2 separate regions of the Homo sapiens genome follow, and region 2 is linked to region 1. Evidence: fine-mapped expression QTL. A gene starts in region 1. The other region holds a variant in brackets. All regions are shown on one strand. Distances are from middle to middle.

The links. PIP is the estimated chance that this variant, and not a neighbour inherited with it, causes the effect.
Region 2: its variant is fine-mapped to the expression of ANKRD34C in tibial artery (GTEx, PIP 0.97).

Annotation. Positions count from the first base shown.
Region 1 is chr15:79,278,228-79,286,563 of GRCh38, forward strand. It overlaps ANKRD34C (ankyrin repeat domain 34C), which reads left to right and starts at 4,495. Exons shown (of 2, transcript NM_001146341.2): 1 at 4,495-5,001. ANKRD34C-AS1 (ANKRD34C antisense RNA 1) reads right to left here and starts at 5,718. Exons shown (of 2, transcript NR_038997.1): 1 at 5,422-5,718. RefSeq lists an enhancer at 4,430-4,969 and a silencer at 4,621-4,819.
Region 2 is chr15:79,220,066-79,228,401 of GRCh38, forward strand. The region is part of intron 1 of ANKRD34C-AS1 (ANKRD34C antisense RNA 1); the gene reads right to left. Among named protein-coding and RNA genes, the nearest start is that of MIR184, 14 kb to the left of the region's middle. The variant A/G (reference allele first, on the strand shown) is at 3,832.

The DNA of each region.
Region 1 (8,336 bases):
TGCTACACTTGGAGCTATCAGCAGCCTTCTAGCAATCTCAAGGGGAAAGGCCATGAGCAGCACTGCTGGCCTTAAAGTTCTAAGCCTCTGAACCATCATCTCCAACTGCCTACCTTCAGACTTTTAGTTATGCAGAGAAAACAAGCCCTCTAGAGATCTGTTACATAACATTGTGTCTGTAGTTAACAATACTGTATTGTACACTTAATTTGTTAAGAGGGTAGATCTCAGGGTCAGTGTTTTTACTACAATTAAAAAAAGAAAAGAAAAGAAACACCTCTTTGTTTAAGATGTGGCTTTATGTTATTTGCATCAATTGTGAGCCAGTTTAAATGTGCAATACAAATATTTGGAACTAATTTTTAAAATTAAAAAGTGGAATAGAAGGATGGTAAAAAGAAGTCCATATTTTATGTGTGTTTTCTAGAACATACCTGTAATACATTGTGATAAAAATCTAGTAAAAGTTATGTTAAAATTTACAATATTCTGGCACACATCTAATCACACAATGCTGGTCTCAAGAGACCAGGCAGGCCTTGTATTGAATTTGCCATGTGATTCTAGGGACACACCTCCTCCTCCTGGAACTTAACCTCCCAATCTCTGTGAATTCAGTGAATCAGATGACTCTTGCTGACAGCTCTAAGGAGCTCAGTGCTCACCTCTGAATCTGACTTTCTCTTCCCTATGGATAATGACTGACTGGTAATATACTCTGGAGAGGGAAACTGCTCAAGAGGTCAATAAAGACTTTACTTTCACTGACTTAAAACAGAGTGCACAGGGAACCATGGCACCTGGGATCACATCATCATTTTCTTGTAGGTGGTAAAATAACATTTGATGTGATTCTCTTCTGATCCAACTGCCTGTGTAAGAGTGGGTCAACCCTCCCCCAAATCTCTCAACCACAGCCCAAATTCCATCACACATTCTTTCTAGCACCCTCTTAAGTGAGACACCCCACGATTACCCATGGTATGTGTCCTCCCTCACTGCAACAAGTGATACAGCCAATTTGTTCAACTATACTTGAGTCCCTGGTGGTCTTAAGCTGGAGGGCATTGATAGTAGTAGATATTCAAAGCTTTTATTACTATTATTAGCAATTTTTTTAAAAAAAAAGTACTATTGCTGTTGTTGTTTTTAATCAAGTAGGCCTAGCATGTAAGGTGCATCTCTGAGGAAGTAGCTGAGATATCCATAAGAAAGCAGACTTGGAATAGGTTGCAAAAGTCCTTTTGCTTCATGGAACAGTGTGAGTTGATTCACTTACACACATACATACACACACATCTCCAAAGAGATGCTGACAAGTCTTTAGAATGCTCCTTTGCAAAGGCAGAGAACGTGCCTGTCTTATTCTAAATCTACAGCACTCCAAAAGAAGGCAGATCAGGTCACATAGCACAGACTCAATAGTAGATTTTGGCTGAAAACCAAAATGAATTCAAGCCTCCTAGGAGACCTTAACAGTTTAATTTAAATACTGATAGATCAGGCAGATAAGCGTAGTTAACACATACAGGGTGCTTACTCCCTATCAGACACTGTGCTAAACATTTTACATATTTTACCTTAGCTGCCTCTCATCCCAGTTGTAGAAAGTAGATACTAATATTAACCCAATTTTATGGACACAAAGGCATTTGGTGTCTCATCGGAGACACAAAGGCATTTGGTGTCTCATCAGAGACTATGCAGCTGGTGAGTGCTGGAATTGGGATTTAAATACAGGCAGTCTGACCCCTGAGTCTGTGCTCTTAATCAATACACTATACTGCCTGTAGTCCAAAGTAAAGATGTAAAGGTTGCTGATATGGTTTAGCTGTGGTCCCACCCAAATCTCATGAATTGTAGCTCCCATAACCCCCACATGTCAAGGGCAGAGCCAGGTGGAGATAATTGAATCACAAAGGCGGTTTCCCCCATACTGTTCTCATGGTAGTGAATAAGTCTCATGAGATCTGACAGTTTTGTAAACGGGAGTTCCCCTGCACAAGCTCTCTTGCCTGCCACCATGTAAGATGTGACTTTCCTTCTCCTTTGACTTCCATCATTATTGTGAGGCCTCCCCAGCCATGTGGAACTGTGAATCCATTAAACTTCTTTCCTCTATGAATTACCCAGTCTCACGTATGTCTTTATTAGCAGTGTGAGAGAGGACTAATACAGGTACTAATGTACAATTAACTTTACAGGTGTACTTGTATTGTTTGTGCCCCAAAACACAGAATGTACATTTTTTTTCTACATTAAGTGTGAGGGAAAATGCTTGTGGAGTATTTTTTATTTGTCATATAAATAGACCACAACACGGAAATGATGTAAATCATATAATTCAACTACAGCAAAATAATATTAATGAAAAATAGTGGGGGAGAACACAACATCAGGAATAAAAAGGGGATATAGGAATAGATTTAAAGGAGATGAAAAATTATAAAGGAGCATAATATGTAACATTATGCCAATACATTAAAAAAGGTAGATGAAATGAACTTTTTTCCAGGTAAATATAAATTACCCAAAATTGACTCAAGATGGGTCAGATGATGAATATGCCAACAAGCATCAATGAATTTGAAAAGATAATCAAAGATCTATCCTTCTAAAATCCATCAAGTCCAGACAGTTTCATGGGTATGTTCTATTAAACCCTCAATGAACTGATAGTTAACTTGATAATTTAAATATTCCAGAGTGTAGGAAAAAACAGAATGCGTCCAAAATCATTCTATAAGGTTACCATAACCTTGCACCAAAGTTGAATGAGAACCCTCATCCCCTAAAAAGGAAAAAGAACACAATTTTTACTTATTAATATAGACGGAATAAACCTTATATTAACATAAGTAAATTATTGCAATCTAGCAGTGTATTTGTATAAAATAACATACATTAACCAAGTAGAGTTTGTTTTGAGAAATATAAAGTGTTATAAAGGTGGCATTCACATCAGTGAGCGAAGAATGGACTTTTTGAATTGGTGTTGGGACAATTGGGTTCTCATCTTTGTCAGTTCCTTACCTTACCCTGTGCACAAATACAGTTTCCAGATGAAATGGTAATCTAAACAACAGAGCTATACATTACTAGAACATTTAGGGAACTGTATGGTGATTCTGGGGTACGAAGCCTCCCTAGGCAAGATGGGAAATCTAGAAACCATGCAAGATAAGACATGTGTTTGACTACATAAACCTTGAAACTGCTTTAGAGAGAAAAACTCCACAAACAGTAGGCAGTCATTATAAATATTGGGTACTAGGAGGGTACATTTCTCTAAGTGATACTATAGACACACTAAGTGATAAAGGCAACTTATGGAATAATATTTTTGCCCTTAAAAGATAAAATTGATAATCCTCCAGCAAGCTTGATTTAAAAAATTGGGAATGGAGCAGTAGAAAACACAAATAAATAATATCAGCAATAAGGAGGCCCAGAACAGTTTTAGAGATGAAAATAAATATAAGGTGACACTATTTGTAACTTTGTGCCAGAAAATTTGAAAATGTAAATGAGATGGACAATATCCTAGGAAAATATAAATTACTAAAAATGACTGAAGAAGTAGGGATTTAAAAAACATAGGGCAAATAGAACCCCTGTGTGCATATACATGTATCTAGACGAAAATGCTGGTTACCTCTGGGGAACTGATTAGTGGGGGAAGGACACTGCAGGGTAGGGGAGGAGGGGGCACTCACTTTCTATTTTTTTTGGAAAGCATTTTAGTTTTTTTTTTTTTTGTAGAGACTTTTTTTTTTTTTTTTTTTTTTTTTTTTTTTTGGTAAGTCTCACTATGTTGCCTAGGCTGGTTTTGAACTCCTGGCCTCAAGCGGTCCTCCTACCTTGGCCTCCCAAAGCGCTAGGATTACAAGCATGAGCCACTTACTTCCTAAATACAATGCCTTATGCTTTCAATCATATGCAGCAACTATTAACTACTTTGTAAAAAGGAAACGAAGATTGTCCGCGAACGACTCCACAGGAGGCCCTGGGAATAGGTAGCGGGTGGGCTAAAACATTGATTTGGAATGAAATCCAACGGCCGTGGAACCAGCCCTGATCATCAAATTATTCCCAGTTTTGAGGATCGCACTGCACCCTCCTCTCTCCCTCTCTTTCCTACACCTTGGACAGACAGCCTGAGATTCCAGGGCGTGTGTGAAGGAAAGCCGAGGAGGGCAGGGCCGCAGAGAGAACAAAGGGGACACGAGTTCAAATTCCTGCCAGGGTCTGAGACCTGCAACGTCAGACTTTGGGAGCGTCCCCTCACTTCTCCGGACCCCAGGAGTGGCCGCGCCTGCTCCGCGCTCACCCTCGGGGAGTCTAGGAGCCCCCTGCTAAGTTGCTGAGCGAGTCGGAGCCCCAAGAGCTAGGGTCGAGGGGGTGGGGCAGCAGGCGCCTCTGCCGAGGCTGCAGGTAGGCACTTCCCCACCCCCGCGGCCCCCTCCTTCCTCCTTCCTCGCAGCTCGCACACCCACACAACCCTCGCCCGTCGCGGCTGGAGAGCTGCTCTCGGCGCCAGCGGGCAGCAGCGCGTCGTCAGCCAGCACAGCCGGCCGAAGACCAAGCCGGAGGTCTGGGGCTGCGCAGAGACCTGCACACCCGCAGCGCGGAACCGGGGGCGATTCCTATCTTTCTTTCATGCTTCTTTCTTTTTCTTAAAACCAAACCAAACCAAACCAAACCCAAAACTCCCCTGCTCCCACCGCAACTTGGAGGAGCGGTGGACCGATTTGAAGGAACTGACGCAGAGGTTTTATTCACGAACCTTGAAGAAGTTCTGGGCAAGTGACTCAACAGGACCCGCGGGGCCCGGGGTAGCCCCAGCTCCCGGCGCTGGTTCAGTCTGGCAGTGCCCTCTGGCAGCCAACCCGCAGCTGCAGGTAGGGGTGCTGGACGCCCCCTGATTTTGTTTTGGGAATAATAATGACACTACCTATAGCCTGGACCCAGGTGGCCTCGCTCGGCGATTGTCCCCACCAGGTAAGCGCACCCCCAGGGGTCTGCATTGGTCACCCGGGTGGGGACCTCGAGCTCCCGAGAAGTCGGTCCATGCTGTTTAGCCACAGGCAGGAGTGGGGAACTGGTAGGAGACAGCTTGCTTTTATCACAGGAAATTGTGGGAGACGGGAATGGAAGGCGGATTTAACATTTTTTATTTTTGCATTGACGCGTGGGGATGAGATGCGTAGGGGCCTGGATTCTTGTAGGAAATGGTTGCGGAGCGGGGCTGGGTGATAGGTGTCTGGATTTTTGCAGGGACTGAAGGGGAAGAAAGGTCGTCAGTTTTTGCAGAAACCTGTGAGGAACTGGCGGTGAGAGGTTATGATCCTGAAAATGTGCACGAAATTGTAAAAAGTAGGCACCTAAGCATTTCTGAGAAATGATGGGAGAAGCACTTACCGCCCTGGTTTCACCTGACCCCCATGCTCGGCCTTCTGGAAGATGCCCACAGACACTGGCAATAATGGACGCTGGCACACTCTGCCGGCGCGGCCGGAGCCCCGGAGTTCAGCACCTCGGACAGAGCCCGAGCCCCGCCGCCCGAGGCGCACAGTGAGCGTGGAACAGCCCGGCTCCCTAGCCCCCGGCCAACGCTGCTCTCAGTTCAGGGCAGCTACGTAACACCGCCCCTAGCTCCGCGCCAGAAAGGGCTCTCGAATCGCAAAAGCAAACGTGTTCGATTTCTGATCTGCTTCTAACTGCTTCCCGTGACTGCAGAAGGAAGAGGCGGAGTGTAAAGATATCTCCCAAGCTTCCGCGAAAACTACAGGCAAACTGTGTGGCCTCCCCGGATTTCGGAAGGTGTACCCAAACTTCTTTAAAAATCTAGCATTTATTAAGCGCTTACCATGTGCCAAGGCCCCGTGCTAAGCCAGTGCACCACAAATTTGTGTCCTATGAGTATCCCCATTTTACAGATGAGAAAACTGAAGCAAGAGAGGCCGAGTAACTTGTCCAGGTTTATGGAACTAGCAAATGGTATGGCTGCGCTCTTAAACGCTGCCAGATTGCAGTGGTGGGAGGATGTGCTTGAGTGGAATTCCCTGCGTGAAATAGCTCTGAACTTGGGATCAGAGGAACAGAGTTTAAATCAAAGCTGTAGCACTTAAAAACGTGTGCCCTTAGACAAAATTACTAAATGTGTCTGAACTTCAGATTTTAACTATCTGTAAATACTTGATAATGCTTTCCTTGCAAAAGTGTCAGGGGAGGGTGGCCAAGGAGATCATATGTGTGGAAAGACTGGCAAACTGGGAATTGTGGTTGGGTGTTAGGGGCTGAAAGGAAGGAGCAGGTAATTAGAAGAGAAGGAGAATTGGTGGTGAACACTTCCCTCAGCACACTCCAAAGGGACTGGGCACAGAGCGGGGCTCAGTGGGAGGAATTCTGGATGAGCTTAGTTCAGTGTGTAATAGCCTCTTAGATTTTTTAACAGGACTTTATAGAGAGTGTGGACATATTGCCTACCATTTGATCCTTATAACAATGTTGTTAAGTAGGCAGGACTGGGGTTATTCTACTTGTTTGGCAAAATGATGCTTGCCCAAAATTACTCAGGTACTTAGTAGCAGAGCTGGGATTAGAATCCAGATCTCCCGCCTCTCTAGCTTATAATCCTTCCACATGGACTGGCACATCCTCAGGAGCTTGAATTATGGGGCAGTTAAGCACTAAAGTGTATTTAGACAAGTACTATAAATATGTGACATTAATGGTTTTTAAAACCATTTTGAAACAGCAGTTTCATATGGATTAATCTCATAAATGTTTATTGATTATATTCTATTTTGTTCCACAAAGAATTTAAAGCAATTTAGAAGGCTCCACAAGATGTCAGGTTTGCACGTATTCGAAGTAGTCGAGAAAACAGAGGTGAAACAAGATTAAGGCTATAGCCACAGATAAAATGAATACAAAGTATGTATATTATAAAGTCCTAGAAACTTGCTCTGGTCTCTAAGTACTAGAAAGTGTATAACCAAGCACTTTCTTGGAGGTCTAGGAACTTTGAAAATGTTTGCAAAAGTCCGTAGACTCTTCTCTTTTGTATAATTCCATCCCTTGCCCTCTGTGAGATCTTCACTGTGCCAAACAAGGGATGTTTAACTGGAAATCCAATGTCAGTGTGACTTGAAGAAGGGGAAATAAAGTGTATGACATTGTATCTGCACTCAGGTAATTAAGTGTTAGTTACATAATTTATAATGGTTCACATGAGCAAACCATACTTTAAAGTTTATATAAAGGTTTACATCCGTTAGCTTATTTAGGCCTTCTAACAACTCTGAAGAGATAAGCAGCTACAAAATGACAGGAAGGACAAAATCCTAGCATCGCGATTTTATATATTATGTATTTTACTTTCATACACAAACCCGCATCCCTATACAGGCCAGTTAAGTAACCTGAATGTGTGAATCGGGCCAATTGTAAGACTACGGAGAATGACAGGGCCTTTTCAAACTGAAGAGTGAATAATCCATCTTAAAACATTCAAAGAAAATTTAAAGCACAGTGCCAGCCAAGCAAGACATGACTGTGGGCTACATCGGCTGTCAGACCTTTAATATGTAATCTTGGTCTAAACTACTCAGGCCAAGGATCTGAGAAGGCATGGGAGTGAAAGACCCTGGATTCAGAGAGAGAAAAGTTTCAATTCCTGTATTTAAGTTTCCTGTTTCTAAACATGGAAGATTGAACAAGATGGCTCCTCTCAGCTTAAAAAATATAAGACATCTTTACTTTTGGGGACAATAAAATAATCAAAGGACATCAGGACAATAATAGCAAACACTTGCATCTACTTATTGCCTCCATGAAAGAAGGCATCATTTTAATTTTCTGACACTGGTGATATTTTAATCTTCAGTATTTCCTCTCCAGCCCCTGTGCCATTGGAAGATATAGTGGCCACCATTATAGTGGAAATGAGTCCAACAGAAAACAGACCAGAGAGGTGAAAGTGATGGTGGGGGTGGAGTGGGGGTGGGGGGTTGGCGGGTAGAGACAGGGAGTACAGCAAGGGAGGAACCAGGCAAACTTTGCTCTCTTCTCAGTTTACTCTTCTTATGAAACACATGAAAAAAACCCACTTTATGGTTGCTAATTTTTAAAGACAAAAATATTCTGGCCAGAGCAGCCAAAGTGGATGGGATCTCAACATTCTAGGAATGCTTCAGCTTTTTTCAATCCAGATTGTTTCTTTTCTCTCCAACGAGCTTAGAGATCTTGTAAATCATTTAATATTTCCAGTATTAGGTGTTCTTAATATTTATTCACTGTGATGCACAATAGGAGATAAATTTTCAAATGAA
Region 2 (8,336 bases), 58 kb before region 1:
AGAGAGAGGAGGACAGGTTTTCTTCACATCCTGATTGCAGTTGATTCTTTCCTGGCCAGCACTGCCAAGCCACCAGCTACAGCCAGGTAGGATCCATTTTCTACCCTCTTAGAGATTGGTGGTTGGAGGTGGTGACCTTGACCTTCTGTCTTCCTGGCTGTAGTCCCCATGGCATCCCTTTTTCCAGAGAGTTCCTCCCAGCTCTGGTCATACAGGGGTAGATGAAAGTCTGGAGACCAAGCAGATACCTAACCAGGGAACCAAATCTAATCTTTGCATTTTGAAAGCACTCCCCCAGATTTAAATGTTTTCTTGGGAGAGACACCCTGTTTCCCACCCCCACAGGGAAGAGGAGGATGAAAGTCTCTCTTCTCACAAATATAGTGTTTCCTGAATAGTGCCTGTCCCCATGTCCTGTCCTCCTCTCTGTCCAGGGGGCAAGGTAGGGGGAATTATAGGGCTTAGTCTCCAAAATGGCATCTCTAAATTGACCCTCTTACCCAGTGGCTGACCCCATTGCTGGTGGTGCTCTGGACTTCCAAAGTGGGGTAGGTGCCACCATTTGTTCCCAAATGTCTCTTTTAGTTGACATTTCAGAGCGACAAGAAAACTCCAACCAGGCACCCTATTACACTGGAACATCCTTTTGTAAAGGGGTCCTCAGGGGCCATTTATGAAGAAGCCAGGACATCATCCCAGGCCTCCCGAGTCAAGGCACGGTGCTCTTGCTCCACGCCAACCATCTCTCTGGGATGTTTGTAACTCAACCACTGTGGTGCTGCAGGAACAAGGTGTGTGAGCAGGGCTGGACTGGGCATGTGGTCATTACCATTATGCTAACAATTTGGGCCCCTTTAAAACACTAGTCTTCGCTACTTTTCTCAAAGTTACTTAGAGGAGAGGCTGTGTTTTGACAAGGAAGGGCAGAGAAGAAGGATGGTCTGTGGCACAGCCTCATCTCTCTTGTATTTCATGCTTTAAATCTGCATAAGCCTCACTAGCAAAATGCACCTTGTCCTTGGAGGGCAATCTCCTGCTGTTGGAACACTCCCAGGTTCCTGACAGCCTGGGGTAAAAGTGGGGTATGCTTGAGTTCTGCTGTTTATTACAAGATGGCAAGGCACCCCAGCCCCACACTTTGCAGGGGCCTCTTGGACGTTCTGAAGGCTCCTGTCCATTGGAACCTTGGACTTTGGACTTGATCTGGGGCTAGAAGGGGCTCTTTGTGTGATCTCAGGGTCTCTGCTTCCCCATCTAAAAAACAGCTGGGTGATTCCTGAAAACTTACAGCCAAAGCCCTGAGGCCCTCAAACTCTGGGCCTCTCTCTTGGTTTCCCTGCCCTTAACTACAGCCTCCACGTCTGGGCCCCGGACCCTGCCCCAGACCTCGGTCCTCTCTCCCCTGGGGGCTGCTTCGGCCCCCATTTACCTCCAGAACCAGCTGCATTGAGTGCACCTGTGGCCTGGTGTCCCCCCTGTCTGTGGTACCCTCACCCCCCAGACATTCTGCCTAGAGTTACTTAGATGCCCTCTAAGACCAGGCTTAGCAGATCAGCCCCTTCTTCCTCTTCATGTGCTCCATGTCCAAGCCTGACTCTGGGACACCTTTAGCTGGTGACCTCTGGAGTTTTGTGGCCATCCAACCTCCAGGCCACTATCTGTGGCCCTAACCTCTAGCCCTGAAGCAGGTCTATTTTCCTGCAGAAGCCCATGATGGGGCAGGGCCACTCACAGCATTGCAGGGAGCTGTATTGGGTGCTCAGCTTGAGGCTAACACATGCAGTGGCTCTTTCAAACCGGTCCAGCAGCTTGGCCTGCATTCCCGTGCCCTTCTGTGTCTTGGGATTGTACATTTACCATTCTGTGATAGCTCACATTCTTGATGACATCCTGTAGAACCTCTCATTGCAGAATATCCTGTAGTTCCCTTTGTGATTAACTGCAGTTAGAGCTGAAATTCTTCAGCCTCCTCATTTGTGTTATTAAGGGCTATAGAGCATTGGAGTTTTCCTTATCTATTGATGTGCCTGCTCAATGGGCACCTGCCCTCTAGCAGAGTCCCTTGTACCAAGTTCGGGAGCCTTTGGTTCTGATTGCCTGGAGCTGGGACTCTCAGCAGCATGTCTGATTTTCTAGAAGAACCCAGACGACAAATCCTTCTGAACTGGGGGTAAATTACCTTTGCAGGCTGACTTTGTTCATCCCTCCTGATAAAGAGTCCTGCTGATTATTGAGATGTAGGTTGTTAGGGTGACAGGAAAGGCCCTGAATTGGGCAGGGGTGATGAATGGATGCTGAAATGTCTTGGGAAAGCTTTTGCCTCTGAGCTGGGTTCAAAATTTCTCTTTGACTCTGCTCATAATGCTGGCGACCGTTTTGAGGTCAACAAAGTCTTACGGAGCCACACTGGCCTGTGATTCTCCTGCATTTACCTGGGGGCTCCAGGCAGAGAGGGCTGTGTTCATTGTCTTAAGACCTCCCATCATCCTTTCCTCTTTCTATCACTTTTTTCCCCTCTTTCCTCAGCTCTCTCTAGGATGGGGTACCTACCCAGGAGAGTGTATATTCCAGCTTCCCATTCCCTGTTCTTTGGTTGCAGTTTCAGATATCCCGCAGCGTCCAGATGCGGGGAGCCTGCTAAGGGAGCCTCCCGAATCAGCCCTGAGTAAGGAGTGTTTTTCTCAACCCCTCTGCAAACATCACCAGTCCTGAGAGGTGGATTATTCTGTGTGAGTGTGCCACGTATATTTAGTCCTTTCCATTCTGCATCCTAGCAGGAGGATGGGGCACTTTGGCAACCTCTGCCTCTCTGACTAGTCTTCTCTCTGGTCCCCCTTCCCCCTGCCCCACGGACTGTGATTCCCACCAGCCCTAGGACCTGCAGGAGCCCAGCCAGCCCTAAATGCCTTCTCTTTAATGACCTGCAGTGTTGCCATGGCAACAAGAGATTGTTTTAACCCCAAAATTGTCTTCATTAAGCTTCATTTGGAAACTGCTTGAGCTGGAGTCTGCAAGCTGCATCTTTAGGCAAGTCCTATAACATCAAAGAGTCTCTTTGGGTGGGACTCAAAATTGAAAACCGTCAGCCAGAGCTTCTAAGAAAATCCACCTAGACAGAGGGCCCTTATTTTGGGGGAGGGAAATTTGGGAACATTTCTGTTGTCGAAGCAGCTTCTCTAGGCAACATTTCATGACTCTGCATACAGCAGGTGCCCTATTGATGCTGGTTGACTTGAGTGGGCTGGCCTTGAGCACTAGCCCGCCTTCTCCATTGATTTCCCAGAAGCGATTAGGGCGTCCCCACCCTTAATTAGTCAGCCAGCTAGATGCCAGTGACTACACCAGGCACTGAAGCGGGGCTGCAATAAAGCAGGCAGGAATCCCGCCCTCAAGGGGCTTAGGGCAGTGGGAGAGTGAGGGCATGACTCCATGGCCTGCACAGAAGGCCAAAAACTTCAAGAAGCTTCCAGAAAAAGCATAGCTCCTAGTGGGACCCTCCCCTGCTTAGAATATTCCATGACGTTCACTGATCATGAGACAGTCTAAACTCCTCATCTTGTCAATCAAGTTTCTTCAAGCACTGAGTTGTTTTTTTACCCTTTAGTTTCCATTTTTATTTTAGTATACCATTACACAGAAATTGCACTAATATATAAATGTTATAAGCTGTACACAGCTTATGAATTTGTTCTTTGTATAAACCCCAATTCTTACACACACACGTGCCCATATAGCTGCCGCCCAGGTCAAGATAAATTTTGAGGGACAGAGTGAAATGGCTCTAGATTATATGCTGTCCTTCCCCCTGCCTTTCAATTAAGTCTAAAAATG[A/G]TGTGGTTAGGAACAGACGATGCTTATTCTGGATTCGTTTCACATTTTTTCCTGTAAAAAATGTGGTAAAGACATAACATGAAATCTACCCTCAGATTTTTAAGTGTACAGTGTAGTTAACTATAAGCCCAATGTTATATAGCAGATCTCTAGAACTTTGTCTTTTTTAAAATAATTGTTATTTTTTTTGAGACAGAGTCTTGCTCTGTCGCCCAGGCTGGAGTGCAATGGCCCAATCTCGGCTCACTGCAAACTCCACCTCCCGGGTTCAAGTGATTCTCGTGCCTCAGCTTCTCAAGTAGCTGTGATTACAGGCATGCGCCACCACGCCCAGCTAATTTTTGTATTTTTAGTAGAGGCGGGGTTTCACCATGTTGGCCAGGCTGGTCTCGACCTCCTGACCTCAAATGATCCACCCACCTCAGCCTCCCAAAGTGCTGGGATTACAGGCATGAACCATCATGTCTGGCCTGTTTTGTTTTTTAGAGACAAGCTCTCACTATATTGCCCAGGCTGGTCTCAAACTCCTGGGCTCAAGCAATCCTCCCGCCTCAGACTCCCAAAGTGTTGGGATTACAGGCATGAGCCACCATGCCTGGCCTCTAGAACTTTTTTTTCTTGCATAACTAAACTCTGCACTCACTGAGCAACAACTCCCATTCTGCTTCCCCTTTGGCAGTCACGACTCTACTTTCTGCTTCTATGTGTTTGCCTACTTTAGAGACCTCATGTAAGTGGAATCCTCCAGTATTATCTTTCTGTAACTGACTTGATTCATTTAGCATAATTCCTCCAGGTTCATCCATGTTGTCGCATGTGGCAGGATTTCCTTCTTTTAAGACTGAATAACATTCCATTGTATGTATATACCACATTTTGTTTATCTATTTATCCCTTGATGAACATTTAGGTAGTTTCCACCTCTTGGTTATAGTGAATAATGCTGCAGTGAACATGGGAGTGCAAATAGCTCTTTCAAGATCCTGTTTTCAATTCTTTAAATAAATACTCGGAAGTAGTATTGCTGGATCATATGGTAGTTCTATTTTCAACTCTTTGAGGGACCTCCATACTGTTTACCACCACGGCTGTACCAATTTACATTCCCACCAACAGTGCACAGGGACTCAAATTTCTCTACATTCTCAACAACACTCATTATTTTCTAATTATTCATTATTTGATCACTAATTATTTGATAATGACTGTCCTAATGGGTGTGAGATGATGTCTTACTGTGGTGTTGATTTGCATTTTCCTGATGCTTAGTGATAATTAGGTGAGTTCATATACCTGTTGGTCATTTGTATGTCTTCTTTGGAGAAATGTCTATTCAAGTCCTCTGCCCATTTTTTAAATCAGGTTATTTGGTTTTTGGCTGTTGAGCTGTAGGAGTTCCTTATATCCATGTTTGTACTTTACTGCTACCTCCCTGAAGCAACCTTTTCACTCCTGAGGGAAGTGAGAGATTGAGGTGATGGCCAAATCGCATGGCCAGCAGTAGGGGTGGAGTTCCACCTCCTTCTTATTAAAGCCCAGGCCATTGTGAGCAAACTTGTCCTTCTAATGGGCAAGCCGAGAAACCTAGAGGCTGGGCACAGGGTGAGGAGGGTGGGGTGAGGCTGTTCTGGTCCTAGGGCTCCAGTCGATATTGCTGTGCACGTGATCCCAGACAGCTGGGTTTCCTCTTTCCAAGTGCAGTCTACCCAAGGCTGAACTATTGGAAGCTGTGCAGGGACAGGGCAGCAGCTGTGGAGGAGGAATGACAGAGAAACTGCAATGACACCTTTGATTCCTTGAAAATAAATGCCTACGTAAAAGGCATGTGTGAAACTCTCAAAGGAGCATATGGCTGGAGGTTGTGCAGCAGGGTTGGGGGCGTGGGGCAGGATTTGGAATACATGGCCATTGATGAAGGGTGTTTTCAGGGATGCTGGGGTGGAATGAATAACGGGAAGAGAAACGAGGTTAAGCTAGCATGGCTTGTTCCTGACGAACATGCACTGGTTCCTAGTAATCACCAAAAGTGCCTAGTAGCTATTAATCTCACAGATAGGTCTGGAATCTTGCTGAAATGGGTATCACATTTGCAGGGCCATAGTGGTAGCACCCTCCTAAGTCTTTTTTTTTTTGACAAATGGGACGACCACTTAGTAGCAGGGTGGCTTTGCTAAAGTTTCTTTCTGTGTAAAATGGAGATGGTCATAACACCTACTTCATAGCGTTTTTGGAAGAACTAACTAAGAGAATCCATCAAAATCCCTTAGCAGTGTGCCTGGCCCATAGGAAGGGCCTAGTAAATGTTACCTATTATGATGATTATTGTTGTTATTACTGGTTACTGATAGTAGTTTCATGATCTCACTTGCAAGATTTTAAAATTCCATTTAACAGTTAATGAACTTGATCTCTGGGCCAGGGACTGTAATAGCCATGGTCAGGGTGGAGAATAGTATAGGACAAGCTTCTTGCTCTATGGGATCACAGGGTCTAGAGCAGGTGATAACTACACAGGTAAATATCTTGAATTCCAGGTGGATGGTAATAAACGTTCTGGGACAGAGGAATAAACAGAGAGCAAGGGCTGGGGGCAGAATCCCTGGCCCCACTCTGGGTGGGGCTGATACAGAGAGTCTACCTGTCTATCTTTTTTTTTTTTTTTTTTTTGGAGTGACAGTATTTCTGCGTCTCTGCTGATCAAGCTGACGTACAGCCAAGCTGCAGCTCACCAGTTTGGCTCAGTTATTTTTGGAATGGTCCTGTAATAGTTTTGCTTATATGAGTGCAGGGAAAGCTTAAAAAATGTCTTTCCTAACCTACAGTATGCCTCCTGATGTACCCAGAACCACTAATTGGATGCCAAGAGCTTGCTTTCCTGCTGAAGAAAATGTCAGGCTCTAATAATATTCCATTATTAGGCCCACATAATTTCCTGCCTGGACAATTCTAACAGCTTCCTCACTGGTCTTCCTGCTTCAGATACATTCCTTATGGCCTATCCTCAACATTACTGCAGTGCAATCGCCATTTCTCTACTCAGAGGACTTCAGTGGTTCTTTGTTACGTGGGTCTGGGAACTAAGAGGTGGAGGGAGAAGTGGTCCTACTTACATTACTCCCAGTTAGTGAATGTCTGCATCCTGTTCCCACAAGTTTGGAGTCTGTGAGTCTGGAGGTCTTGACCTCAGGTTGGGGAAATGATTCCATCAACGGCTATACAAGTCCCATTAAATTTCATATTATGGCTGCTGCATGGTCACTGTGGGCAATTTGTGCTGACAGAAAAAGAAAGGAGTCACCATTCTAGCTGTGGTAATTGACTTCGATTAGGCAAAACTAAGGCTGCTGTCATCCAAAGGGGAGCAGAGAAAAATGTGTTTGAGACCAAAGTGATCCACTGGGGCTTCTGTCAGTACTCCCCTGTCCAATCTTCATGGGAAATGGTCAAGTATTGCTGCCACAGCTTGAGAAAGACATAATGACTTGGGGTTTAGACCACAGGTAACCCACAAAAGGCAAAATGCCTAGATCAGAAGTGCTCACCAAGAGTAAGGGGACTCTCAGATGCATAATAGAGAAAGAAGATAATAAGGACCAGTCATGTCATGATCTTGAGGCCAGTGGCAATGGCAACGCTACAGTCCAGCCAATTACTTTATTTTTGTGCCTTTCCCCCAGGAAAAGAGGCCCACCAGAATCCTGAAGGAGCTGCTCTCAAGACTTTTACAAAACAAGTGGATCTGAGTGGCACAACGGGTAGACTGTAGTGGATGCTGTCATTTGCCACCCAGATTTCTTCCACCTTTGAGACTGAAGCACTTAAGTCTTCTGGCTACAGGGAATGTTGAATGTTAGCAGCTTTCAGCTAAGTCCCTCTTCCCAGTGATTGTCCTTGGCTAATCATAATTATGCCCTTGTCTATTTAGGGATCCCATTACAAATCCTTTTATTAGGCCATCACATGCATTTACCCATTTTACTTAAAATGCTAAATATATGAAATTTCTTTGCAAGCTGTAAGTTATCCGATGCTTTTAAAGGATGTCAACAAGGTCAGGATTAAGGAATGGCCATTGCTGGTCATCTCTGGGCTGGCTGTCACACCTACTTCTAAATTAATACTCCTGGCTCTCAGGGGACCTGCAGGTTCTTTTCTCATTCCTGTCCCAAGAGCATTTATGTTCCGTTTTTCTCACTCTTCCCACCTACACCTTTAAAACCTCTTCTTTGGAACAGCAGACTTTACCTCCCACTCCAGACAGGTTTCTGTGCTAATCTTAATTTGGCAATCATCACTACAAATTGGATGTCTATTCAGCACCTCCTACACCTCTCTATTAACTCCAGTACATTAACAAATACCAAAATATTCATGTAAAAATATTTCTCCATTTAGAGAACATTGTACTTTATTCCAGGTTCCTCTGTTTAATGCCATCTGATAAGAGCTGACTATAGATCTAATTATAATTTTACTGTAACCTGACATTTCTCTGTCAGACATGC